Linked DNA regions of Homo sapiens: regions 2, 3, 4 and 5 are each linked to region 1. Evidence: fine-mapped expression QTL. A gene starts in region 1. Each other region holds a variant in brackets. All regions are shown on one strand. Distances are from middle to middle.

Region 1 (5,000 bases):
ATATTGAATTGAACTGAACAAGCTTTTTACCAAATGCCCTGTTATGGATGAGGCAGGTCACCTTCCCTGCAGGACTCACTTTGGCCAAGAGAAGACTTGTAAAACAGGTCCAGCAGCCTCAATTATTGCACACTACTACCTGTACAACTGGAGTCCCCCAGAGATTAGGGCAGACCTTCATTGTTTACTTGTCTACCTCACCCATTAGACTTTGAGCTCTTTGAAGACAGGGAATATCTTAATAGACTGAATCCCCATAGCCTTAGCAAGAGGCCTGAAACATAGTAGCTCTCCGAACTCCAGTAATGTTGGATAAACGAATTGACTGAATAAGCAAATTTACCAAGGTAGACCCATGAGCTCATGTAGTTAAAGAGTATGGATAAGCTTCAGGGAAAGTATGGGAAGTTTTCAGGGTCAATGTTCCCAAAACCCTTTTTGAAAGGCATAGTTTCTAGTTGAGGTGGGGAGTTTTTATATGCACCTGACTTAGAATTTTCCAAATAGGAACCAAAATGTTGTAAGTGCTGTGGTAGAAATCCCACCGGGCCAATGGGAAGAAATCAGCTCTGTCTGTAAGAGGAGAGACAGGATGGAGGCCAGCAAAGACTTCACAGTGTGGGAATTCTTCAGTGGACTCTTGAAAGCTGAGTCCGGTGCTTGCTACTTGCCCGTTTTGGGGCATAAAACCAAACTTCTGGAGCTTTTAAGGCTGGAAGTGACCTGCTCAAGGTCACACAAGAAGTAGATGAAGCCACAGGGTAAGAGAGATGAGGTATCTGTACTGATAATTCCTACTTTCTCCTGACAGAGTTGAAAGAGAACCCAAAAATGTAGGAGGCAAAATTAAAGATTGTTCTCAGGAACAATTCTTAAAGTCAAGACTAATGAATCTGAATTTTTATTAGTAACCACGGAACTAACCCTTCCCTTCACTGTTCACAGTTTTTGTAACAGTAGAACAATTATCCAAGGGGTTTAAAAACCAAGGACGTTGCTCACAACGCCACACCCACTACTTCTCAAGTATTCTTCCAAAACACTCCCAGTAATGTGTACTGCTGAAATAGGATAGCGAAGGCTACAACAATCATGTCTTTTCAAACGTAATAATGAACATAAAATAACTATAAATCTCCTTCCCCGGTTGTTTTTCACTTCCCAAGTTACAGAATATTCCGGGGTGGGGGAGGGGCTGCGTAAGTCAAGTCCTACCAGCCCTTATTTTTCAGGGAGTAGAACCCTAAAGGTGACTGTCCAAGCCTGGAAGGGGTCATTTATTCCATGCAGAAGGAACTGGGCGCCGCTTTGCTGTGCCTCCTCGTAGCGGGACAGGGTGAGCGCCGCAGGACTGCGAAGTTCGGGACGGACTCGGTCCCGGACCGGTACTCGTGTGGCCTCCCGGCTCCAGCCTGGCCTGGCCCCGCCCCGCCCCTTCCCTCTCCCAGGTCTCTCGAATCGCCCGGCGTCTGAGACCCGCGACCCCGCCGGTACGCGCACAGGGGGCCTTTGTTGGCCCGACGGGAGCGGGCCTCGCGGGGCGCCGCCCGCCTCACCTTACCTGGCGCCTCCTCCCGCCCAGGCGCCCGGCCCCGCAACGCGAAATAAATGGGCCCAGACCCCCACTCCACCCGTCCCCACCCCCGCGCCCCAGCCCTGGCAGCCCGGGACGCGAGGGGTACTGGGCGGTAGGCCCGCTCTCACCTTCCGCGCTCGCTCAGCTCCTCTCGGCTCCTCCTCCTCCTCCCGGCGGTGGGTGCCGCCTAGCCGGGAGTGAGGGCGCGAGTGTGCGCGAGCTACCGCTTCACTTTCTCCCTCCTGCCGCCGCCGCCGCGCTGCCCGTGGCGGGGCTCCCCTCAGGACAGGGGAACTGCGAGGGAAGGGATGATGGGGGGGCGGGAGGGAGCGAGGCGACGCGGGCGGGGGGGGAAGGGGGGACTGAGGGGCGAGGTGCGAAGGGCTCAGATGGCCTCTGAGGCAGGAGGTGGTAACTGGATGCGGAGACCAGGTTCCTCGAGGGGGCTCACGAAAGCGCGGGGCTCCGTGGAAAAGGGAATGAGAGTCCAAGGGGGAAGGCGTCTGTGGGGGAGGACTGCAGAGCCTGTGAGGGAAGCGCGATGGGCGAGCGAGGGGGCGGGAGCGTGTGGGGGAAGCCGTGAGGGGGCGTCTACTGTGCAGCCACCACCTTCGGCTCCGGCTGCAGCCGCGGGAGGGCAGCCTCCCCCGCCCACAGCCGCGCTATTGTACGCCGCCCGGCAGGCCTGACCGCCTAGTTCACTGGCTCCCCTACTCCTCCTCCTCCCGCCTCCTCCTCCCCTCTGCCCTTTCCCCTTCTCCCCCTCCCCCTCCCCCACTCCCCCTCCCCGGCGCGGCGGCGGCGGCTGCGGCTCCGGTGGAGCCGTGCCCGCCCCGCCTCCCGCAGGTGAGAGGGGGCGGGGAGGGCCTGACCGACCCGTGGGAGCGAGGCCAAACCCTGGCCCGCATGAGGGCGAACGCCTGGGATTACGTCATCGGCGCGTGACGCCAGAGGCTGGGGAATCACCCGCTTGCTGCGTGACGTCATCGCGTCGCGTCACTGTTCTCGGTCCGCTGTCCGTGGCGGGTTGTTTCCGTGCAGCCTTTCTATCAGACAATTTTGGGACGATTTCTGGGAGGGCTACTGTAGTAGTCAGGATGGAGAAAGACGGCTAACTTCCGGCGCTGAGGGTCCTTTTCAGGTTAACAAAGCACCACCGCATCTATGAGCTCGTTGTCAAGGGCTGAATTTGAAAACTATCCGATGTCGTGTGATCTCACAGCCAGACATGTATTATGTTTTCTTTCTGTGGGAGAGGGGGCAGGGGTGGGAGGAAGACAAAGAAATTATAACGGAGATGTTTGAACTAATGTGAACTGACATACGAAAAGAATGGGCTTCCTTTCACGTTTTTTCCCCTACCGTGGAGGGTACTTTCGACCCAAAGCTTTCTTTCTCCTGAGCTCAGATTGTGTATTTCCCAATACCTCCCGAGCAGCATTACCTGCATACTCTTCGTACCTCAGATTCAACATGTGCGAAACTGAGACAGCATTAGAAAGGCTAAGAGTCCGGAATCAGGTTGCCTTGCTTGAAATCCTAGCTATTCAAATATTAGTGATAGGACCTTGACATTTCTAAGCCGTAATTTTTCTGTAATAATAAGTAGTACCTTAACTAGGTCTTCCTAAGCCTCAGTTTTACCATGGTAATAGTAACAAGCCCTTTAGAATGTTGGCTATTATTATTATTTCCCCCCCAAAATTGCTTCTTACGTTCCTTTCCGTTCTCAATGAATGGGCCACCCATTCAACAATCCCCTAAGCCAGGAACCTAGACATACTAATAGCTCCCCGTTCTTCCTCTCTCAACATCCATATCAAGTTGGACACCAAGTCTTGTAGCTTCTCCTAAATATTTTTCAAGTCCTTGCCTGTGTCGTCTTCTACTACCACCACCTGAACAACTGGAGCAACCTTTAGTCTCTTCAAACTCAATCTATTTTTCTCACTAGTTACCTGAGTAGCCTTATAAAAGCACAAATCTGATGATGTCCTCCCGTTTAAACACCGAAAGGATTTTATTGCTTTCAGGATAAAGTTCAAACTCCTGAACTTGGCACTTTATTACCTGACTGCTTACACTAGCCTTTCTAGCTTTGTCTCACATCATTTATTTTTTGCTCCAAGCACACTGAAATATTAACGTTATTTGAATACACATTTCTTCATGTCTTCAAGCTCTTCCCTACTTAGCTGACTGGCCAACACCTATTCATTGTACAAAGCTGAGCTCAAATGTCATTCATATTCATATTCATATTCATTTGACTAATATTTCTAAAGTTTCCCTAAGCCTTAACAAAACTGTAATTCTATAGTATTTCTATGCCTTTTATGGAAGTAACTGCATTTGTGTATCTAATTTCTTGAGTTCCAAGTCATATTCCTTTCCATATCCTCAGCACCTAAAACAGTGCTTGACATATACCTAAGTATCAATATGTTGTTAAAATATATTTAATAAGGCCAGGCGCGGTGGCTCACGCCTGTAATCCCAGCACTTGGGAGGCCAAGGCAGCCAGATCACCTGAGGTCAGAAGTTTGAGACCAGCCTGGCCAATATGGCGAAACCCCATCTCTACTAAAATACAAAAATTAGCCGGGCGTAGTGGCAGGCACCTGTAATCCCAGCTACTCAGGAGGCTGAGGCAGGAGAATTGCTTAAACCCAGGAGGCGGTGGTTGTAGGAAGCTGTGATTGCACCACCACACTCCAGCCTGGGTGACAAGAGCAAAACTCTGTCTCAAAAAAAATGTATTTAATAAATGTTCCTATTGTTCTTTCTATGTGCCAGGTACTGTTCTGAGCACTTTACAAACACTGTCTTTAAACCTCTACCCTCTACGGTAGATACTGTTGTTATCCTCACCCATCTTATTGATGCGGGAACTGAGGCACAGAGGGGTTAAGTAACTTAACCCAGGATCCTAACCCAGTAAATTGACTCTAATCTGGATTGTCTTTTCGTGATCTCTGCACTAGGCAGAATAATGGCTCATCCAATGGAATGTTCACATTCCAATCCCTGGGAACTATGAATATGTTACCTTCCATGACAAAAGGACTCTGCAGATGTGAGTAAATTGAGGATTTGGGGAAAGGGACTCTCCAGCTTTTGGGAGCAGACTGGAAAATGGAAAAGGCAAGAAAATGGATCCTCCCTTGGAGCCTCTGGAAAGGAAGAGATGGTATCCTGATGATACCTTAATTTTAGCCCACTGACATCCATTTAGGACTTCTGAACTACAGAACTGTGAAATAATAAATGTGTATTGTTGGCCAGGCACAGTGGCTCACATCTGTAATCCCAGCACTTTGGGAGGCCGAGGCGGGTGTATCACCTGAGGTCAGGAGTTCAAGAGCAGCCTGGCCAACATGGTGAAACCCCATCTCTACTAAAAATACAAAATTAGCTGGGCGTG
Region 2 (5,134 bases), 28 kb after region 1:
ATTCCAGTGATACTTTCGTTATACCTTTATTACACTTTTTGTCTTAATTAGTTGTTTACATGCCTGTCTGTCCCAACAGTCAGGGAATGTTAATTTAGAGTTGATGTGGGCCCTGGATCCATATTGCTCCCTAAGCACTGAGTTGGTTTGTGCTGACACTGCACACACACACACACATACACACACAGAGCAGTAGACTTTCCGGCATTTTGGCTTCTACAGAACAGAATGGATACAGCCTGGCTAAATGTCTCACCCTTTTGACCTTCTCTAGCACTCACCTGATAAATCCACCATCCAGCATCAGCGAACACTTCCATCTCTGCTTCTACACCTGGCTCTGAAAGTGGCTGGAAGACCTCTGAACACACGCATCTGAGATAAGCAAGCCCTGACCATAAGTGAGTGGAAGAAGTTTGCTCCCTTGGAAAATTTTGTTATAATCAGTTCATAAAAATGAAAATTCACAAACACAGAATTTGTATAGCAAAGATGAATATACATAACTCAGATTCAACTGAGAGCCCTCCTGCCCTTAAAGATCAAAATATAAACCGGGTGCGGTGGCTCACGCCTGTAATCCCAGCACTTTGGGAGGCCGAGGTGGGCGGATCACAAGGTCAGGAGTTCGAGACCAGCCTGGTTAACATGGTGAAATCCCGTCTCTACTAAAAATACAAAAATTAGCCAGGCATGGTGGTGCATGCCTGCAGTCCCAGCTACTCAGGAGGCTGAGGCAGGAGAATTGCTGGAACCCAGGCAGCGAAGGTTGCAGTGAGCCGAGATTGTGCCACTGCACCCCAGCCTGGGCAACAGAGTGAGACTCCACCTCAAAAAAAGAAAAAAAAGTCGAAACATAATTAACTGGATTCCTCCCTCCAATTCCACGTCTTGTGGAAATCCAAAGCCCTCCTCAAGATTTCCGTTCTGGCTGGGTTCAGTGGCTCACACCTGTAATCTCAGCACTTTGGGAAGCCGAGGCAGGAGGATCATTTGAGCCCCAGAGTTCAGGATCAGCCTGGGCAACACACTGAGACTTGTCTCCACACACACAAAAAAATTAGCTGGGTGTGATGATGCATGCCTGTGGTCCCAGCTATTCAGGAGGCTGAGGCAGGAGGATTGCTTGAGCTTGGGAGGTTGAGGCAGCAATGTGCTGTGTTCACACCACTGCACTCCAGTCTAGGAGACAGAGTGAGACACTGTTTCAAAAAAAAAATTCAGTTCTTTCCCAACAGACTTCTCTTACCACAGCCAGCTAGCCTCTGGGCTCCTGGCTCCCCACATGGTCCTCTGTTCTGCAGTGTGCAGATCCACATTCAAAACTTAGTCCCTCCAATTTCCACCAAAAACCCAATCCCGGGTAATTAGCCGGGCGTGGTGGCAGGCGCCTGTAGTCCCAGCTACTTGGAAGGCTGAGGCAGGAGAATCGCTTGAACCCAGGAGGCGGAGGTTGCAGTGAGCTAAGATCCCACCACTGCACTCCAGCCTGGGTGACAGAGCGAGACTCCGTCTCAAAAAAAAAAACAAAAAACAAAAAACAAAAAACAACCCACTCCCATAGAGCAGTTTTGAAGTTAGTAGAATTTGCTGGCAATGTGGAGGATGAAGGGGAAATCCAGGAGAGTTTCACATCCATAGCAAAGCAAACAATTCAAAATGGAAGGACCACTATCTGCCAGAGGGGAGCTTCCCCGGCCCTTCACTCCACCCGGACTCAGTCTCTCCACTGACTCCTCTCTTCTTCATCCTTCTCTCTTCTCTCTACTCCCTGTGGTGGCATCTTTTCTCTGTGCCTGCTGAGCATTCACTGAATTCGACCCCTCTTCTCGGGTAATAAGCAACAGCTTTCCCTTGGGGAACCACCCTTACCCCTTCTCTCAAATGGCTTGAGCAGGGCTGATCCCACCCTGTTCCAGTGATCCATACAAGTGACCAGTCAGTGCATCCCACCTCTCTGGTCACACTGATGCTCAGGGACAGGCTTGTGGGAATGTTTGGTGAGTGAAAGACTCTTGCCCCCAGGGTCTCTGATAGGAAGATCAGTATTGCTCCTGGTGTCTTTGCCACCCCATGTGAAGGCCTGCTTGAGAATGAATCAAGATAAAGAAAAACAAGAGTCAAGACATGAAGAGAGAGCTCAAATATGGATGGGAAAGCTCCAGTCCCTGAATCCAAACGTTTCTAACTGGATACCTGGGTTTTCTTTGGTCTAGCTAGATAGAGTTAAATTTTTGTCATTTGCAATTGTGAGCACCCTGACCAATATCTTCCTCCTTCTGCTTCCTTTTCAGAAGCAATAAACCAAATTCCTCTTTGCTTCATGCAAAGCAGCTTCCCCTTCTCTGAGCTGGGAATCTGCTGACACCTGTGCCTGCTGGGCATTTAAATGTTTTCACCAAGATAGTTTTCTCCTTATGACATATATTGGCGCCAAAGATTAAGATGACCTTTTTATTCCCAACTTGTCACAAAAATATTTATATAATTGAGACTATACTGTAAATACAGTTTTGTATCCTGCTTTTGTGTGCGTGTATGTGCATGTGTATGTGTTTTTTTCTTTTTAAAGTTTTCTTAATTTTTCAGTTTTTGATCAACAAATATTTATCCAGGAACTACATATATGTCAGCCATATACAAGAGCAACTAACATACTATGTTGGAAATTTTCCCATGTCATTAAAGACTTCATAAATGTCTATTATTTTCAACCAGCACAGAATATACAATCACACAGTTTTAAAACTAAACGTTTATTGT[T/G]AAAACATTTAGTTTTATTTCCAAGTTTTATGAATAATGATAGACACATAATGTGTCTAAATCTTTCATCATTTCCTTAGGATAGATTCTCAGAAGTAGAATTCCCAGAGGAACTTCTTATTTTACCCCTCCCTGCAAAAATGCAGAAAGAAATTTACCAGACACCACTGTAGTAGTGTCAGTCTTCTCTAACCCCACATAGCTGGAAGAGACCTGCCCTGAAGTGTCTTCAGATGGCAGAAGCATCAGGCTTCTTCGCAGGAGCTTCCTGTTCCCTCTGAGTGCCCTGCCTCAGCTGCCCTCAAGGAGCTATGAACTCGCCAGCAGCTGTCCCACTCCACCAAGCAGTGGGCACTCTGTCAACCCCACAGACCTCGCAAGCTGGCATGGTGCACATATCTGCTTGTAAGGACTGTATGAAAAGAATGGCATTCAGGGCAAGCCCAAAAAGGAGAGATGCCAAGACAAGAAAGTCAGGGCTAATTGTGACCAAATTTTCTTTTCAAGCCTCTTTTCTTTTTACTTTTCTTTATTTTCCTTAATAAGCACGTGTGATTTATAATGGAAAAAAATTAACTTATGGAGGAAAACAATAACAACATGAATTTCTCAAATTTGATGTGAGGTTGGAGATGATCTTCGGGTTCCTGGGAAAGCAGCTGTGAGTTATCTGGCTTGGCAATGCCTCCTGCAAATCACTGGCTGACTCTGAAAAATGCATCTGTACTTTAGTCACCAGAAGGAAGGGCTGATTCCCTCTGGGGCCACCACAAAGGGCAATCGATGACTATCTTCCAGACCTGGAAGAGGGTTCCAAACTGCAATGTGTAAAACCAAGGAGTGGGTCTAAGGCCAATCAGTGGGAGCCTCCGAGAGACAGATCTTTGACTCACTGCCAGAACTTCTTAGCAAACAGAGTAGTGCAAAGATAAAACCAGCTGCTCCAGGAGGTGGTGGCCTCCCCATCCTATGCAGCATTAAAGCATATGCTGAGGCCAATTGCCCTGGATGGGTTGGTGGCGGTTCAAGTGCAAGGCAAGACAGCAGTTCTCAAACTGTTTGGTCTCAGGACCTTTTTACACTTTTAAAAATTATTGAGAACCCCAAAGAATGTTGTTTATGTGGGTTATCTCTATCAATATTAGCCATATTAGAAATTGAAATTGGAAGTTATAAAGTATTAGGTCAGGCATGGTAGCTCATGCCTGTAATTCCAACACTTTGGGAGGCCAAGATGGGAGGATTGCTTAAGCCCTGGAGTTCAAGACCAACCTGGCCAACAAAATGAGATTCCACCTCTATAAAAAAAGTTTAAAAATTTTCTGGGTGTGGTGGCACATGCCTGTGGTCCCAGCTACTCTGGAGGAACACTTGAGCCCAGAAAGTCGAGGTTGCAGTGAGCCATGATCGCACCACTCAACTCCAGTCTAGGCAACAGAGCAAGACCTTGTCTCAAAAATAAATTAATTAGTAATAAAATAAAGTATTTATGAATCTTTTTTTTGTTTTGAGATGGAGTCTCCTCTCTCTCCAGCCCAGGCTGGAGTGCAGTGGCGCGATCTCAACTCATTGCAGTCTCTGCCTCCCATGTTCAAGAAATTCTCCTGCCTCAGCCTCCCAAGTAGCGGGGATTATAGTCACCCACCACCACACTCAGTTAATTTTTGTATTTTTAATAGAGACAGCGGTTTTACCATGTTGGCCAGGCTGGTCTCAAACTCCTGACCTCAAGTGATCTGCCCGCCTCAGCCTTTCAAAGTGCTGGGATTATAGGCGTGAGCCACTGCACCCGGCCCCTATTAATTTATTTTAAAACAACCTTAATAAATTATTAGTTTGTTAATATAAATAGCACATTTCCATGAAAAATAACTACACTTTCTAAAGCAAAAAAAAAAAAATAGTGAAAGGAGTAGCATTCCTTATATTTTTGTAATCTCTTTACTACCTAGATTAATGGAACACAGCTGGATTCTTATATTTGCTTCTACATTCAATCTGTTTCAGTGTGTTCTTTGGGTTGAAGTATAATGAAAAAAATCTTATGTGTGGCTAGAAAAGGCAGGAGTATTCTAATTGCTTTTTTCTGATAAGTTTGAATATTCTTCTTTGACACCACATTAAAACTTGACGAGTGGGAGTTTCTCAAAGGTTGTTGCAATGTGGAATCTGAAATCATATCAATGAGCTTTTCATACTGCATATACTTGTGTGAGAATGAGACTGAAAAAGACAAATAATACCTTAGTATTATTATGAAAGTGGGTTTAACTTTATGGACACCTGAAAGAGGTTTTGGGGATCTCTTGTGTTCTTATACCATACTTAAGGATTGCTGAGGTAGGGACTTGAAATAGAAGACTGTTCAGTC
Region 3 (5,134 bases), 65 kb before region 1:
AACTAAATAGGACTTGGCAAGAGTAAGCACTCAAAGCCAGGTGCAGTGGCTCATGCCTGTAATCCCAGCACTTTGGGGAGGCTGAGGTGGGTGGATCACTAGAGCTCAGGAGTTTGAGATCTGCCTGGGCAATGTGGTGAAACCCTGTCTCTACAAAAAATACAAAAGCTAGCCAGGTGTGGTGGCAGGCACCGGTAGTCCCAGCTACTCAAGAGGCTGAGGTGGGAGGATTGCTTGAGCCAAAAGGTCAAGACTGCAGTGAGTGAGCTGAGATTGCTCCACTACACTCCAGGCTGGGCAACAGACAGAGATACGATTTCAAAGGAAAAAAAAGAGTAGACACCCAGTATCAACACCAAGATTTACTAGACCCTGTCCCTGCCCTCAAAAATCTCACAGACTAATGGGAAAGGCAGATACATTAACCACAATAACAATACAATATGGTAACTGGCACTATTGATTGGTGAGAGGAAAGACATAGGTGCTGCATGAATCCAGAAGAGGGGCCCTTAACAGCCTAGGAGTCAGGGGACTTGTAGAATAAGTATAGCTATTACGTGCCTACTATATAATTATTATTATTTTTTTATATGATTATTTTTAAGCTTTATAATAACCCTTCAAAGTAGGTATGAATATCTTCCATTTTTATACATGAAGCTTAAAAAGATTAAAAATCAGGTAACAGTAAGTGGTAGAACCAGGATTTGAACTGAAGTCAATCTACTTTTAAGTCCCCCTTCCCCTTTTTGTGTTACATCATAAGAAGTCACTAAAAGTATCTTTTATAATTGCCACCTACTATCTGTTCGACCTTAAATAAAGCACATACTTCGTGGTTTTTGTTTGACCATGGAACTAAATTACCAGTCCTAAAGCCCTATCTACCCCACTCCTTTTCCTTTACTCACGGAGGATTGAGGTTCAATCCTCTCCTATTAGTCTGTGAGTTTTTCGAGGGCAGAGAAAGGGTCTAGTAAATCTTGGTGTCTATACTGAGTGCCTATTCTTGCCTGTCAGTGGCAACCCTAGGCTTTCAGGCTATAGCATCTGAGCAATTTTTCACGGCTTGAAAATGCACTCGGGAACAACCACAATGATATCTATATAGCACTTTACAAAGCATTTTCACGCATTCATTATTTCATCTGATCCTCACCAACCCTATGAGGTGTTAAATCCCTATTCTATAGAGGCCAGTGGAAGCGAAAATGCCTAGCCTAGCTGCATCTGGTCTCTGGACTCTGCAACCCGCCAGAAATTGAATTTAAGTAAATGGAACAGGGAGGAAAGGAAGGAAGAGATCAAATGACTCAGAGAGGGAGCTCAGCATATAGTCACCCAAGTGGCCTCGAGCCAGAAGTTAACAGGGACGAAGTCTGTTTCCCTTCCAAGGTAATGAGTGTTTGTTTGGCTATGGCACAGTGACCTGCCACATGGGATTGTTCTTTTTTTCATGTCAGCAGTACCTAGAGTCTAGCCCCAAAAGTAGGCAGAAAAGAGGATATAGGAAAACTCTTTGTACACTGTATGTATACACAAACTCAGGAGATAACAGGGTATAAGAGAATAGATATCACCTTCAGAGAAGACTTAAGTTTAGGTCCTAGCTCTGCCACTGTCTTGCTAAATCAAAAGTGCCCTCTTCTGCATTATCACAGCCCCTTGTGCTTCCTTCTACAATACTTACCACATGAGCGTCCACATTCCTTGATCTGCATTTGAGAGCAACAACTGAGGCCAGTTTCAATTTTTGTATCGCCACCAACCTAGTACCATAATTAGCATAGAGTAGATGGTTCAGAAATATTTGATAATGGATGGATGCAATATTCAAAGCTCTGTGAATATTGTACATACATATATACACACACACATATATACATACACACACATACACACGATCGTACGTACC[A/G]TTGCACTCTAGCCTGAGCAAAACAGCAAGATCCTGTCTCAAGAAAAGAAAAAGAAAAAGACAGGCAATAATAGATGCTGGCAAGGATGGGGAGAAAGAGGAACCCTCATGTTGTTGACAAAAATGTAAATTAGTAGAGCCACTATGGAGAAATACACACACACACACACACACACACACACACACACACACTCCACATTCTGACAGTGAGTGCCAATAAAACAGTAATCTTGTCGTTCTCATCTCTGCTTTCCCTCTAACTCCCCCACTTTAAGGACAGTGCTCACAAAAATTCCGTTGATTAACGAAGTGGAGACAACCCACAAAATGGGAGAAAATATTTGTAAGCTATCCATCTGACAAAGGATTAATAACGAGAATATATAAGGCGCTCAAACAACTTAATAGCAAAAAAAACAAGTAATCCAATTTAAAAACTGGCAAAGATCTGAACGGACATTTTTCGTAACAAGAGATACAAATAACCAACAGGTACATGAAAAAAATGCTCAACATCACTAACATCAGAGAAATACAAATCAAAACCATAATGTGATATCATCTCACTCCAGTTAAAATGGCTTGTATCAAAAAGACAGGCAAAGGCTGGGCACGATGGCTCATGCCTGTAATCCCAACACTTTGGGAGGGCAAGGCAGGCAGATCACTTGAGCCCAGGAGTTCACAACCACTCTGGGCAACATAAGGAGACCACACTTCTAAAAAAAAAAAATTTTTTTTTTATTAGCCAGGCATGCTGACATGTGCCTGCAGTCCCAACTACTTCAGAGGTTGAGGTAGGAGACTGCTTGAGCCTAGGAGGTTGAAGCTGCAGTAGGCCATGATCGTACCATTGCACTCCAGCCTGGGCAACAGAGCAAGACCCTGTCTCAAGAAAAGAAAAAGAAAAAGACAGGCAATAACAGATGCTGGCAAGGATGGGGAGAAAGAGGAACCCTCATATGCTGTTGGTGAAAATGTAAATTAGTAGAGCCACTATGGAGAATAGCATGGAGGTTCCTCAGAAACTAAACATAGAACTATCATGATTCAGCAATTCCATTACTGAGTATATATCTAAAAGAAAGCAAATCAATATATGAAAGATATCACACTCCCATGAATCCTGTAGCACTATTCATAATAGCCAAAATGAAAATGTGTATATACACAATATATATTTGTGTATATATGTATATATACACACAACGGAATATTATTCAGCCATAAAAAAGAATAAAATCCTGTCATTTGCAGCAACATGGATGACACTGGATACCATTTTTTCAGGTAAAAAAAAAGCCAGGTACAGGAAGACAAATATCACATGTTCTCACTCATATGTAGGAGGTAAAAAAAGTAGATCTCATGATGATACAGAGTAGACTGGTGGTTACCAAAGGCCAGGAAAGGGAGTGAGGAGGATGAAGGGGGAAAAAAAGATATAAATGTACTTACTGAAACTGAACTGTACACTTAAACATGATAAACATGGTAAATTCTTTCAAAATTTTTAACTAAAAAAAAATTTGCTGAGTAGAAATCAGTTCAAAAAGCCAGTCATCAAAGGGGAAGATAATTAACCTATATAGTCCCCTTTCCCAGACTATAATCTTTCTCTTTCTACACACAAATAACCACTATCTTGTCCAGGCCACCCTCTTCTTCAAAAGAGCACTGTCTTCTCCTCCAGGCCTCCTCCTCCTCCTGTCCCTCCAACCCATCCCTGCTATCCTCCCTCTTCTTTCCTGGGCTACCTCCTTTCCTCCAGATCAGCACTATCTCACAGCTGCCAGAGTTTCTGGTCCTCCCAGTCACTCATCTCACTAAAGGGAACTTGAGCCTCTGCCCAGCACTACTTGACATTCTTGCTCTCCTCCCACTCAGGCCCCCCACTTCCCATCTTGCTTATTCCCTACTGCCTACCTGCTTGCTGCCCCACCACCACCAGCAAAGATGGGAAACAAATGCAGGAAGAGGGAGTGCTTGTTGGCAGGCCCAAGGCAAGGCACAGAGGCAGTAAAGAGAGAGAATGGTCCTGGGGAAGATAGAATTTGGAGGTAAAAGCTAGATGCAAGTGAGTTAGGTAGAAAACAATGTTTGGACCTCATAAACACAGGAAAAGGTCTCTACAAACCAGTAACCTACTAATAATAAGAAAGCTTAACCAAAAATTTTAGAAAAGAGAAGAAAGCCTAATCAAGAGGGGGAGGATCCAAGAGAGGGAAGGAAAGACTGGCTACACAGGGGGAGAAATACAAAAGGGGAAGCATGAGGGGAGGAGGAAGGGTGAAGGGGACGGCGGGAGAAAAGGTAGGCAGGGGGCAGGAAAAATGATCAGGAGGAGGAAATAGAAAGAAAAGTGAGGAGAGGAAGACGTAGAGTCATGAAAAAACTAGGGGGAGGAAAGAGGTCCAAAATAATCAAAGTAGGTTATTATCGGGCCTGACATGAGCTTCTTGGTGCCAGGTAATAAAGAAGGAAAGAATTATAGTGATTAAGATATTACCACAGCCAGGTCTGTCATTAACTTAGCAGAATAAGGAAGGGGCTCCAGAGAAGAGAGTCTAGTTTAACGCAACTTTATACCTAAGGACAGAAAAACTGGCCAGTTTAGAATCATTAACATACCTTGACCTTCTACTTCCCAACCCTACCTCCCTACACCTAACACACCTACGCATCACACTAAAATAAGCATCAGCATTCTCAGTCTCTGCTTTGTCCCTGAAGAACCACCAAGATGCCATTCAAAAGGCTGGCTGGAAGACAGGATACCAAGGTCTACTTCCCAAGTTCTCCTCTCTTCTACAGTGTTGAGGGGGACATCTCTGCAGCCCATTTTAGCACTTTAAACCAGCTCACCTCTCCAAAAGATGGTTTGACAGTCTGGAAAAGCCAGAGTAACAAACAATGTCAAGTCCTTCACTGCACAGATATGGCAACTCAAGCCACAGAGGATGTCTGAATAGGACCAGTCCCCCCAGGTCTCCTCCCTCCCAGTTCACTCAACCTCTTAACACAGAAAAGCCCCCACAGTCCCAGCAGGCCAGCGACTAAGCCAAGGCAGAGGAAAGCACCACGTTGGCCACCAAGCAGAAGGGCGCTTGCAAAGGAGCAGAGCTTCTGAGGCTGAGCGGTTCCCCAAAGGCGCAGCTTCCCCTTCACACCCTTCCCTGGGCAGAGCTCTGATTCCAGTGCAGGCCTAGCCCTGGG
Region 4 (5,134 bases), 43 kb after region 1:
AAGATCATAGTTGAGCTGGATCCTGGAGGATACATTTGAAGGAGGAAAATATGAGAAAAGTCCTTCTAATTAGCAGCAACAGGCAAAGAGGAGGAAAAGAGCATGACATTACCTAATTGAATAGCAATAATTTTTTTAGAGAAAAGTCTTTCCAAAACATCCAACTTAGCTTTCATAGGAATAATAGCTCAACTTCTTTTTACACTCATATTTCATAGGTTTCCATTGTACATTTAATTTAATTACACCATGTGTGCCTGGCAAAAACTGGTTAGCAAACGTCACTGACTCCTGGTAAGCAGATAATTCAATTGCTGCTGAGTCAAGTCCTTTATGCCTCATTTTTCTCATTTGTGTCATGGCGGTGTTATGTGGCTTTAATGAGTTAATCTAGATAAAGAGATTTGTAAGCACTTAATAAATGTTTGGATGAGGAAGCATACAGGTGTATCTTAGCTGATATGTTTTCCCTGAAGGAATGTGGAGCATCAGTAAACCCCGTGCATGATTTGGTTACATGGAGGAACATTACCAGCTTCTCCTGTGTTACGGGATGGTTTTATTAGACAACAATGCCTTCTATGGATCATAGAAAACCTTCCCACCGAAATACTACCTTCTCATTCTCGGATTTCTTATGAAATGTGCACTTTGTCCCCAGGATACCTGACTCATTCCTTATCCAAAGGCCTTATTTGCAGGTCTGGCCTGAAGGCAGGAAGCAGCACAAAAGTAGTGTCTCCTCCTTCAACATTTGAATGACTGCCATAAAAATAAATAAATAACATCCTTTTTTTACTCCCAAAGGGGATGTTTACAACAAGTGTCTTACTCTCTCCTCAACTACAGCAAATATATGTTCAGGAGTATCAGGTTGCAAGGTATACACCAATTCCAAGAGCACTGCTGCAAGCAAAATATGCCATACTTTCTGATGTTAGAAAATTCTCCAAGTTGACTTCATTTCTCGGTTGCTGGCAGCCAATCATAAGCATCCTAGAAATGCTGCACGTCTAGTGGAAAAGTTGGAATGTAAGGCCCTCCAAGGTAATATGATGGAAAGAAGAAGGGCTTTAGAGGCAGACATGACTGGATCCAAATTCAGTCTGTGCCATTTGTTTTTAGCTGTGCAATTTGGTCAAGTCACTTAACCTCTCTAAGCCTCAGTTTCCTCAACTACACAAAGAATAATCTTTGCTGCATTAAATTCTTGAAAAGACTTAATGTGTTAAGGCAGAAATTCACCTAGTTTAGGACTGGACACACAGTGTGCATTCAATGTATGGTAGCCATTATTATTGATTATTTTTCAGTATAACTCCAGCATTGAACCTTAGGTGTAATGAAGCTATACAATGTCGTGACTAAAAGCCAGGCTACCTGGGTTTGAATTCCAGATCTTCTACTTCTGAACTGAGTAAACTTGGACAACTTTTTAAAGCTCTCTGTGCTTCATTTTCCTTCTCTAAAATAGAAAAAGTAACACAACCTATCTCAAAGGGTTGTTATCAGAGTTAAATAAGTTAGTATATGTAAAATGTTTAGAATAGTACTTAGAACATATTAAGCAGTAATGTGTCAGGTATTATATAATTACTGTATTATAACTGTCTCTTTAACTGTGAACTGTGAGATAAGGACTCTTTTGTTTCTGTATCTCCAGGGTGGTCAAGTGACTAGAGCAGATTAATAAATGTTAATTGAATAAATGAAGCATCTCACATGCCATGCTAGTCAAGACTTTCCCTAATTTAAACTAACCAATTTAAACTAACTACAAAGTCTAGGCATGGTGGTTCATGCCTGTAACCTTAGCCCTTGAGAGGCTGAGGTGAGGGGATCAGCTGAGCTCAGGAATTCAAGACCAGCCTGGGCAACATAGTGAGACCCCATCTCTCAAAAAAAAAAAAAAAAAAAAAGCTGGATGCGGTAGCACATTCCTGTAGTCCCAGTTAATTGGGAGGCTGAGACGGGAGGATTGCTGGAGCTCAGGAGTTCAAGGCTGCAGTGAGTCATGATCATGTCACCGCAGTCTAGAGTTGGTGACAGAGTGAGACCCTGTCTCAAAAAATAAAATAAAAATAAATAAACTAACTAAAGAAAAAATAAGGCAATTTATTGCTGCTCATATTTAAATAACCCAGGGATGAATCTTCCTTCAGGCATAATTAGAACCCAGGGCTCAAATAATTTAAGGAATTGTCTCTAGCATTTCTGTTTTGTTGGCTCTCTCCACACATAGGGCATTATAGCCACCAGCAACCCAAGCCTCAGAGCCAGCCACTTTAGCACTCAGTGGAAAAAGAGACTCTTCCAAAATATCTGGCCAGGAGAGAATTTTAATGTGCCCAGTTTGAGTCATGCACCCATCCTACTATTAACTTCTGTGGTCAAAGAAATGATGTAATCTGATTAGCTAGGTCTGCCCCACTGTGTAAAAAGGAAGGGGCAGCCCTATGCAAACACACAGATTTCCCCAAAGGAAATAACATTCTATTATAGGGATGAAGGGAAAGGGATGCTGAGCAGGCAAAAATGCCAGATGGCTTGACATATGCCAAAGAATGGTTGTCAAGCCCATTGGTCCTAGGTCAGCAGTCCCCAACCTTTTTGGCACCAGGGACCGGTTTCATGGAAGACGATGTTTCCACAGACCAGTGTGTGTATGTGGGGAGGGATGGTTTCAGGATGAAACCTGAAATATAATGTACAAGTGCATTATATTTATTGTGTGCTTTATTTCTATTATTATTACATTGTAATATGTAATGAAATAATTATACAACTCACCATAATGCATAATCAGTGGGAGCCCTGAGCTTGTTTTCTTGCAACTAGACAGTCCTATCTGAGGGTGATGAGAGACAGTGACAGATCATCAGGCAT[C/T]AGATTCTCATAAGGAGCACACAACCTAGATCCCTTCCTTGCCCACTTCACAATAGGGTTCACGCTCCTAAAAGAACCTAATGCCATCTGAGAGGAGGCAGAGTTCAGGCAGTAATGAGAGCAATGGGGAGGGGCTATAAATACAGATGAAGCTTCGCTCGCCTGCCACTCACCTCCTGCTGTGTGGCCTCTCTAGATTATTCCAGACAATAAAACTCTGCCCACTTTTAACAGGGCTTTTAAGAAAAACACCTTAATCTTTCTAAGTAATTATTCCAGATTTCAATAATCTCCACATAAAGTTATTCTTAAATTCAATCTAGTCTAAATTCCTTGGTATTCAAGGTATTTTTCTTCTTGTTTGTTCTGCTGTGAAATGAAAAAAATGGCTTAGCAAGTTATTTAATCTATAAATTAATTTGAATACTTTTTATGAAGGAAGGACAAATAGATATTATGAATATGGGGTCACCTGGAGAAGCATGGTGAGAAGTCAAATCTAATGGGAAAGAAAGCTGTGATCAATTAACGAAGTCTACTTGCCCCAGGTTCTAGAGAGGAGAGTGGTCACACAGTTGGCTGTGTTTGCCATCTCTGGTTTTTGTAATTCTTCATCTTAAAAACAAAAGTTGTATCTACTTACAGGGCTAAAAATTATTCCCCAGTGAATCAGCAAAGAGAGTGTAATTAGTATGTTTTTTATGCAAAAGAAGATTGCAAACCACTCGGCACTCTGCTTGGATTTGCTGAGGTGCCACCTCAGGTGTTAACAAAAATGAGATGTGTGAGAGAGAAAATCATTACACCCACCAGCAGCCCTTCCTTCCACCCTGGATCTCATCATCTGAAGTGTCATCACTGACACCAGATGTGCTTTTGTGGCATCGTGGCAGCTGACAGCTAAAGATGAGCAAGTTAGTCTGATTTGCAGTAACTTTTCCCATTTATTTTGTTCCATTGATATACATGGACCAGGCTGAATTGTCATCCAGAAGATTCTATTTTGCCTGTCTCCACACTAACTTTTTTAATACAAACAGTTTAAAATAAACAAAATTAGAATCGTATTGTTTAAATGCCCATCACTTAGATTCAACAATTATTAGAATTGTGCCATATTTGCTTCATGTATCCCTCTCCTTTTTCTATTTGAGTATTTCAAAGCAAGTCTCAGACCTCATGTTATCTCTCCCTTGATACTGCATACACAAATATTTTCTACATAACCACACTGCTACCAACACACCTAACAAAAGTAACACCTCTTTGGTATCATCGAATTCTTAGATAATTTTTATACTTTCCTGATGTTTAAATACATGTATTTTTTATGGTTAGTTCATTAGAATCAGAATCTGAACAAGGTCGTTACATTGCATTTGAAGGTTATGTCTTTTGAGTCTTAAAATCTACAACAGTATCTCCCAGCTCTACCCCACCCTTTTTTTCATGCTATTGATTTGTTGATTAAACTAGTTCAATAGTTCTATAAAATATCCCACATTCTGGATTTATCCATTTATTTATAAGTAGTGTCACTTAAACTTGAGTCTGTATCCCCTGTATTTCATGTAAACTAGAAAATTAGTCCCAAAGGCCTTATTAGATTTGGGTTCCTTTTCTTTTTTCTCCCCATAAAGGGGGCATCTCAAGAGGTACATACTGTCTGGCTGTCCCACTCTGAGTGTAGTTAACACTGATCAGTGGTTCCAGGGGTGTCAGCCGGATCTCTCTATTGTAAAGTTCTCCAGAAGCTTTTAATCTAATTCTTTCATCCCTTATTGATCTTTGCAAAATGCTGGTTTTTTTTTCCTAATTCTATCATTCCTACCACATTTTTTAGCTGGGATTCGTCTGTAAAGAACTTTTCCTTATCAGTTAGGTCTAGTTGGTCACCTGGAAATGTAGATTGCATTGGGAAGGCAGGATAATACTGTTGCAGAATTTTGCTCCTTAGTTCAGCTAATACCAGGTTCTAGACACAAGCCAGGAAAATTTAGACACATGGACACACTGAAGGGTAAATAGAGCAGGATTTCATTGGGCAAAAAGGGAGAAAAAGAAAAAAGACTCAACAAAGCAAGATGGAGTCCTGCTAACAGGCCTCTCACCTCAGGGACTGAATCCCAGGCCACCACACAGGAATTGGAAGCCAGGCTCCTCCCCTGGCCTGTGGCCCCCCCCTCCGCCCGTGGCTCCACCCCATTCCCCCAGTGCACATGTGGGCATGGTCAGGCAAAGCCCTGCG
Region 5 (5,134 bases), 25 kb before region 1:
AACACATTTACTTATGTTCCCTCCCAAAATCACTCTAAAATGATGGTAAAGCTATAAAAGAGGTATGAACCTCAACAATAAAGAGAATGGGTGAGGGGACATCAGACGGTAAGAGATTTCAAAAACTGTTTAGAATAATAGTGAATAGGGGAGCTGTGACAAAAAGAAAAAAAAAAAACAAAAAAGGAGAGCAAAAGAAGCTGTAATCTAGAGCCTTGCATAGTCCCTGAGCAGCAAAGATGTGTGGTCCCTGTACAACAGGATCCCTTCACCTGGAAAGAATCACTGGATTAAAACACATAAAGACATAGGAAGTATAAATCATTTACCCAAAACCACACAGAGATAAGAAGAGCTAGATCCTATTTTTGTTACCTTTCTATAACACATCCGCTATTAGCCAACTTAAAAGAATATAGGATGAATCAGCAGCCCATGCCACAAAACAAGGAGGCAGAGGTGTTTCCCAGGGTCTACATTTTGGCCTTCTTTACCAACTCCAAAAAGGTCCTTTGTGTTTGGGCTCTCCCTGGTGAGAACCTGTTCAAATAGTTGGGATAAGAATCCCATTATTCCCATTGTCTGATTCTATAGCTCTGAAAGGTAGGTTACCAGCACCTAACAAAAATAGGACAAAACTTGGAGGCGAAAGATTTCATAAGCACTAACACTGTTTCAAGTCAAAGCTGAGCTCATCTATCTTGCCCGTGGTAGTGTGAGAGAAGCAGCTTTTCATCCCTTTTTAGAACAGAACATGTCCAAAGGTAGGTGTTGTTATATCTGCTAACAAGATGAAACAGATTCTTTTTTTTTTTTTCAGGGGAAGTCTCGCGCTCAGGCTGGAGTGCAGTGGCACGATCTCAGCTCACTGCAACCTCCACCTCCCGGGTTCAAGCGATTCTCCTGCCTCAGCCTCCCAAGTAGCTGGGATTACAGGCGCCCACCACCACGCCCAGCTAATTTTTGTATTTTTAGTAGAGACGGGGGTTTCATCATGTTGGCCGGACTGGTCTCAAACTCCTGATCTCAGGTGATCCGCCCACCTCAGCCTCCCAAAGTGCTGGGATTACAGGCGTGAGCCACCATGCCCAGCCAAAATAGATTCATTTTAAAATGCCAAATTACAGAATTGCCTACAGTTGCAATTAAGGCATTAATAACTCTAGGGCTATTTCTTAATACACAATTATGAGAGTACCACAGCTATTTGCTCCTCATTCCACCACACTCCCATTTGAACTCTAGTCCATCACTGCATTAAACACATCTACATACTCAATTTGTGTGTTTTTGATGTGCACAGAAAGAATACTGAATTAGGAGTCAGAAGAATAGTTCCAAACACAACTCAAGCTTTGGAATCAGCAAGCTTGGGTTTGAATCCCAATTCTGTCTGAGTTACCAGCTGTGAGATCAGAAATTAATCATTTAATCTCTCTGGACCTCAATTACCTCATATGTAAAATGGGAGACTCATATGGGAAAAAATGGAAAAATATGTCAGAGACCTGTTGTGAGGATTGGGAATATTTATTAGGCAACTTGCACAGCAGTAAGTTACTCAATGCGTGGTACTTTCCTCTTTTATTGACCACCTGGTATTTGCTACGTATTTCTAACCTTGGAAGGGTTGTTTTGAAGAAGTGTTTAAGGAGAGGTAGAATATACAAATTACATTAATTACAATACAGTACAACACAAAATATAACACAGTACAAATATAATATAAGAAATGATGTCATAGCCATTACAACAGAGTAACACATAAACACTGAAGGAAGAAATACTAATTCTGCCTGGCACAGGAGGACAATGTCAGAGAAGGCATCAGAGACAGATATTTGAACTTGGTCTTGAAGGTTGTTGAGTGTAAGGACAGCAAGCAAAGGAAAACATGTTAAACAAACAAAATGCTATGAGACCCAAGTTAAGGGAACATGAGAAAGAATGTTTGGCTTATTTCAGCAATAGTGTGAAAACTTACAAAGAAGTGATAGGTTATACAGAACCAGAAATAAGATTAGCATGAGGAAGGGACTACCCATGGGAAGTTTTTTGTGGAAAGCAAAGTGGTATAATAGGCAAAAAGAGGTAGTCATTTGAGAAACTCTTGAAACTATTTAGCTGGAGAAGAACAGTAATAAAATCACTATTGTGATTATAAAGAATTGTCATGTGGAGGAAAGGTTGAATTCATTTTGTCTGACCCAAGGGACAGATTTAAGAAGGTGGATAGAAATTAAAAAATGATATTATACAAAAATGGCTAAGGAATATTAATGATATACAGGGTGAGTGTTTGAAATTTAAAAGAAAATGTCCCTCCTGTACGTTTTGAAATTAACCCAGAAAGCTCGAAAGAGAAACTCCTTCAATCTTAGCCTGGGCTAAGAACCCCAGGCTTTCTCTTCCTCTTTGGGGACAAGACTTGACTTGATGGGCCTTTGGTGCAACCAGGTTTGAGGAAGGTGCTTCCACCACTTCCTGAGGCCTTACACAATTCA[A/G]TTCAACCTCAAAAGGGAACACTAGCCCACACAGAAACAGCTTAAAAAGAAAACTAAAGAAGGCAACGACTTTAAAGGAAACTAGGCAGTGCGCTTAAAGAGAAAAGGGCAATGGGAACAACATGAACATCAGAGGCATCAACTATCTGTTCTCATGTTAATGAAGGAAGGAAGAGCAGCAAGACCATTCAGTTCAACATCTCACTGTACACATAGAGAAACTGAAGCCCAGAAAGGGGATAGGGCAGGTAAAGCCAGGCATGAAAACAACTTAACATAAAACGTTAGAGTTCAGGCAGACTCTTTTATCATCTCACTTTTCCTCAAAATAACACAGTGAAGGAGGTGTTATTTTCCCAATGAGACACGAAGATCTTTAAAGCATTACAATGTTTGTGTTAGTTTTCCTTATGGGTTGCTGGAATGAATAATGCTTTCCTTTTCAATCCTATAGGTAAAAAAAAAAAAAAAAAAAAAATCACCCTAAGGACTGGAGCTTCTCCAGGGAAATAATGTGGACTAGGAAACAGTTTCTCAATACCCTCACCCCAATTCCCCTATTCTATCTAGGACTTTCCAATGTATTACATATTCAATTTTTTAAAAATTCTGTTTTAGCCCCTGTGCTGAGAACAGGGAGCAAAAATTCAATCAGACATGCATCTTCAAGGAGCTTCCCATTCTGAAAGCATAGACAAGCATGACAATCAATGATTATCTTTTAGTCATGAAGACTTGGTTTCAAATCCTGGGTCTGCCCTTTACTAGCTAAGGCAAGTCATTTCCTTTCATCTAAACTTCAGACTCCTTTTCTGCGAAATTGAAGGCAATACCCTCAGTCTAACTCAAAGTATTAACTTGTGAGTATTTGGAAAGATAATTATTTAAAGCACCCAGCAGAATGTCTGATCCACAGTATATATGCTCAGAAGGTATTTACTGAATTAATGGCTTACATAAAAGTATCAATTCTAGGGGTAGAGTTGGGAAGAAAGAACATCCCAGCATTATGTTTTCTCATAACCCTGGACCCACTGAGAGAATGATGTTTACCTGATCATGTGGGTTTCATGCTCCCCAACTCTTGTGCATTAAAGCCACAAATACCACCCCAGCATTAAAAACCCGAAAGAACCTGGCAGGTCCCACACAATGACTAGGGATGAAGGAAATAGCTGTCTGGCCTGACCATATTTGCAAAGGGAAGTAGGCAGCAGAGCAAGGCCTAAAAAACCCAAGACCTGAAATCCTGCAAATCCTTATGATTAAAGACTAGAAAATCCTTGTTAAATACAAATATCTCTGCAAGGTGAAGCTGGGGTGAAGAATTAGGAGCCATTAGGGATTTATGGAACTCTATGGGCCACAGAAGTTCTCCACTTTAGATAGATATTATTTCAAAAAAATACATTGGCATATCTACTGTGGGTCAGGTGTTGAAACAGCAGAGGACTTAGACATGGTTCCAGTTTTTGAGACACTTAGAATAACAGAGACAGAGATCACAATGAAAAATGGTTTCACCACTAAGGTCCTGACATACTGCTATTCAGTGGGCTGCAACTGCCTGCAGAAGTGACCCAAGTTTCCCAGTTACCAAGTTTCCTCCTCCTCTTTTTCAATCCATTTACCACAAAACCTGCCATCTCTAGAGGCCCTTCTCTGGGCAGAAGAGCTTGCCTATGTGCCACAGGAGTTTAGAATGGAAATCTGACTAACAGCAAAGCTCATACCTTACACCACCTATAGCCTCTGGAATCAAACTCCACAAAACACTTTAAAACCACAGAACAAGAAGTTCTGATGTATTTATTTTAAGACTTTAGGGAAACCATTTGAGAAGACAGAACTAAGTCTTCTGAGAATATCTCAAACATTTACTGACTACCTATTATGTTCCAGCCACCACTTTGATTCTTTATAATGGGGTTCAAGACATGCTACCCCAAAATATGACATCTTAGCATATGAGAAAACAGCAGACGCAAGAAAGTATTCTCACTCTCAGCTTCCCCTCACCCTTCTCCCCTGAAGCAGGTAATCAGATCCTCATTCAAGAGGTACCCTCCTTATTCCCAGAGGAAAGCCTCATTTTTCTCTGAAGACACAGGGACATACAGAAAAATCTGAACAAACCAGCCTTGCTAAGTTCCCTCCAACCCTGATCCTATTACCATTACATCATACCGCCTTTGTCCAATCATATTTCTCCAAGACTACCCACTTCTTCCATCAAACCTAAACATAAAAATACACAAGTTTGCCTGTTTCTTTGCATCCTCATTTCCTTATGAAGGCTCCTATGTCATGTAAAACTTGTATTAAATATATTTGCTTGCTTTTCTCTCGTTAATGTCTTTTGTTTTTTTTTGTTTTTTTTTTGAGACGGCGTCTTGCTCTGTCGCCCAGGCTGGAGTGCAGTGGCACGATTTCTGCTCACTGCAAGCTCCGCCTCCTGGGTTCATGCCATTCTCCTGCCTCAGCCTCCCGAGTAGCTGGGACTACAGGCGCCACCACCACGCCCGGCTAATTTTTTGTATTTTTAGTAGAGACGGGGTTTCACCATTTTGGTCAGGCTGTCTCGAACTCCTGACCTCAGGTGATCCGCCTGCCTCGGCCTCCCAAAGTGC

Which allele goes with the higher level. Alleles are on the strand shown, and positions count from the first base shown. SD is a standard deviation of normalised expression in the study named. Not every link is listed here.
For the expression in cerebellar hemisphere of the gene that starts at base 2,247 in region 1, T is the low allele of the variant in region 4 and C is the other (small effect, 0.34 SD a copy in GTEx).

Evidence for each region. PIP is the estimated chance that this variant, and not a neighbour inherited with it, causes the effect.
Region 2: its variant is fine-mapped to the expression of PAK1 in monocytes (TOPMed, PIP 0.98).
Region 3: its variant is fine-mapped to the expression of PAK1 in whole blood (TOPMed, PIP above 0.99). The same link has a PIP of 0.9 or more in monocytes.
Region 4: its variant is fine-mapped to the expression of PAK1 in cerebellar hemisphere (GTEx, PIP above 0.99). The same link has a PIP of 0.9 or more in cerebellum.
Region 5: its variant is fine-mapped to the expression of PAK1 in whole blood (INTERVAL, PIP above 0.99).

Annotation. Positions count from the first base shown.
Region 1 is chr11:77,471,848-77,476,847 of GRCh38, forward strand. PAK1 (p21 (RAC1) activated kinase 1) reads right to left here and starts at 2,247. Exons shown (of 15, transcript NM_002576.5): 1 at 1,705-2,247. RefSeq lists an enhancer at 1,355-2,271 and silencers at 1,512-1,821, 1,842-1,891, 2,122-2,481.
Region 2 is chr11:77,499,635-77,504,768 of GRCh38, forward strand. It overlaps a transcript of PAK1 not described here. Among named protein-coding and RNA genes, the nearest start is that of PAK1, 28 kb to the left of the region's middle. The variant T/G (reference allele first, on the strand shown) is at 2,764.
Region 3 is chr11:77,406,461-77,411,594 of GRCh38, forward strand. All of the region lies in intron 1 of PAK1 (p21 (RAC1) activated kinase 1), which reads right to left. Among named protein-coding and RNA genes, the nearest start is that of PAK1, 65 kb to the right of the region's middle. RefSeq lists an enhancer at 5,059-5,134. The variant A/G (reference allele first, on the strand shown) is at 1,919.
Region 4 is chr11:77,514,941-77,520,074 of GRCh38, forward strand. It overlaps a transcript of PAK1 not described here. Among named protein-coding and RNA genes, the nearest start is that of PAK1, 43 kb to the left of the region's middle. The variant C/T (reference allele first, on the strand shown) is at 2,887.
Region 5 is chr11:77,446,732-77,451,865 of GRCh38, forward strand. The region is part of intron 1 of PAK1 (p21 (RAC1) activated kinase 1); the gene reads right to left. Among named protein-coding and RNA genes, the nearest start is that of PAK1, 25 kb to the right of the region's middle. RefSeq lists enhancers at 1,984-2,754, 2,334-2,763. The variant A/G (reference allele first, on the strand shown) is at 2,505.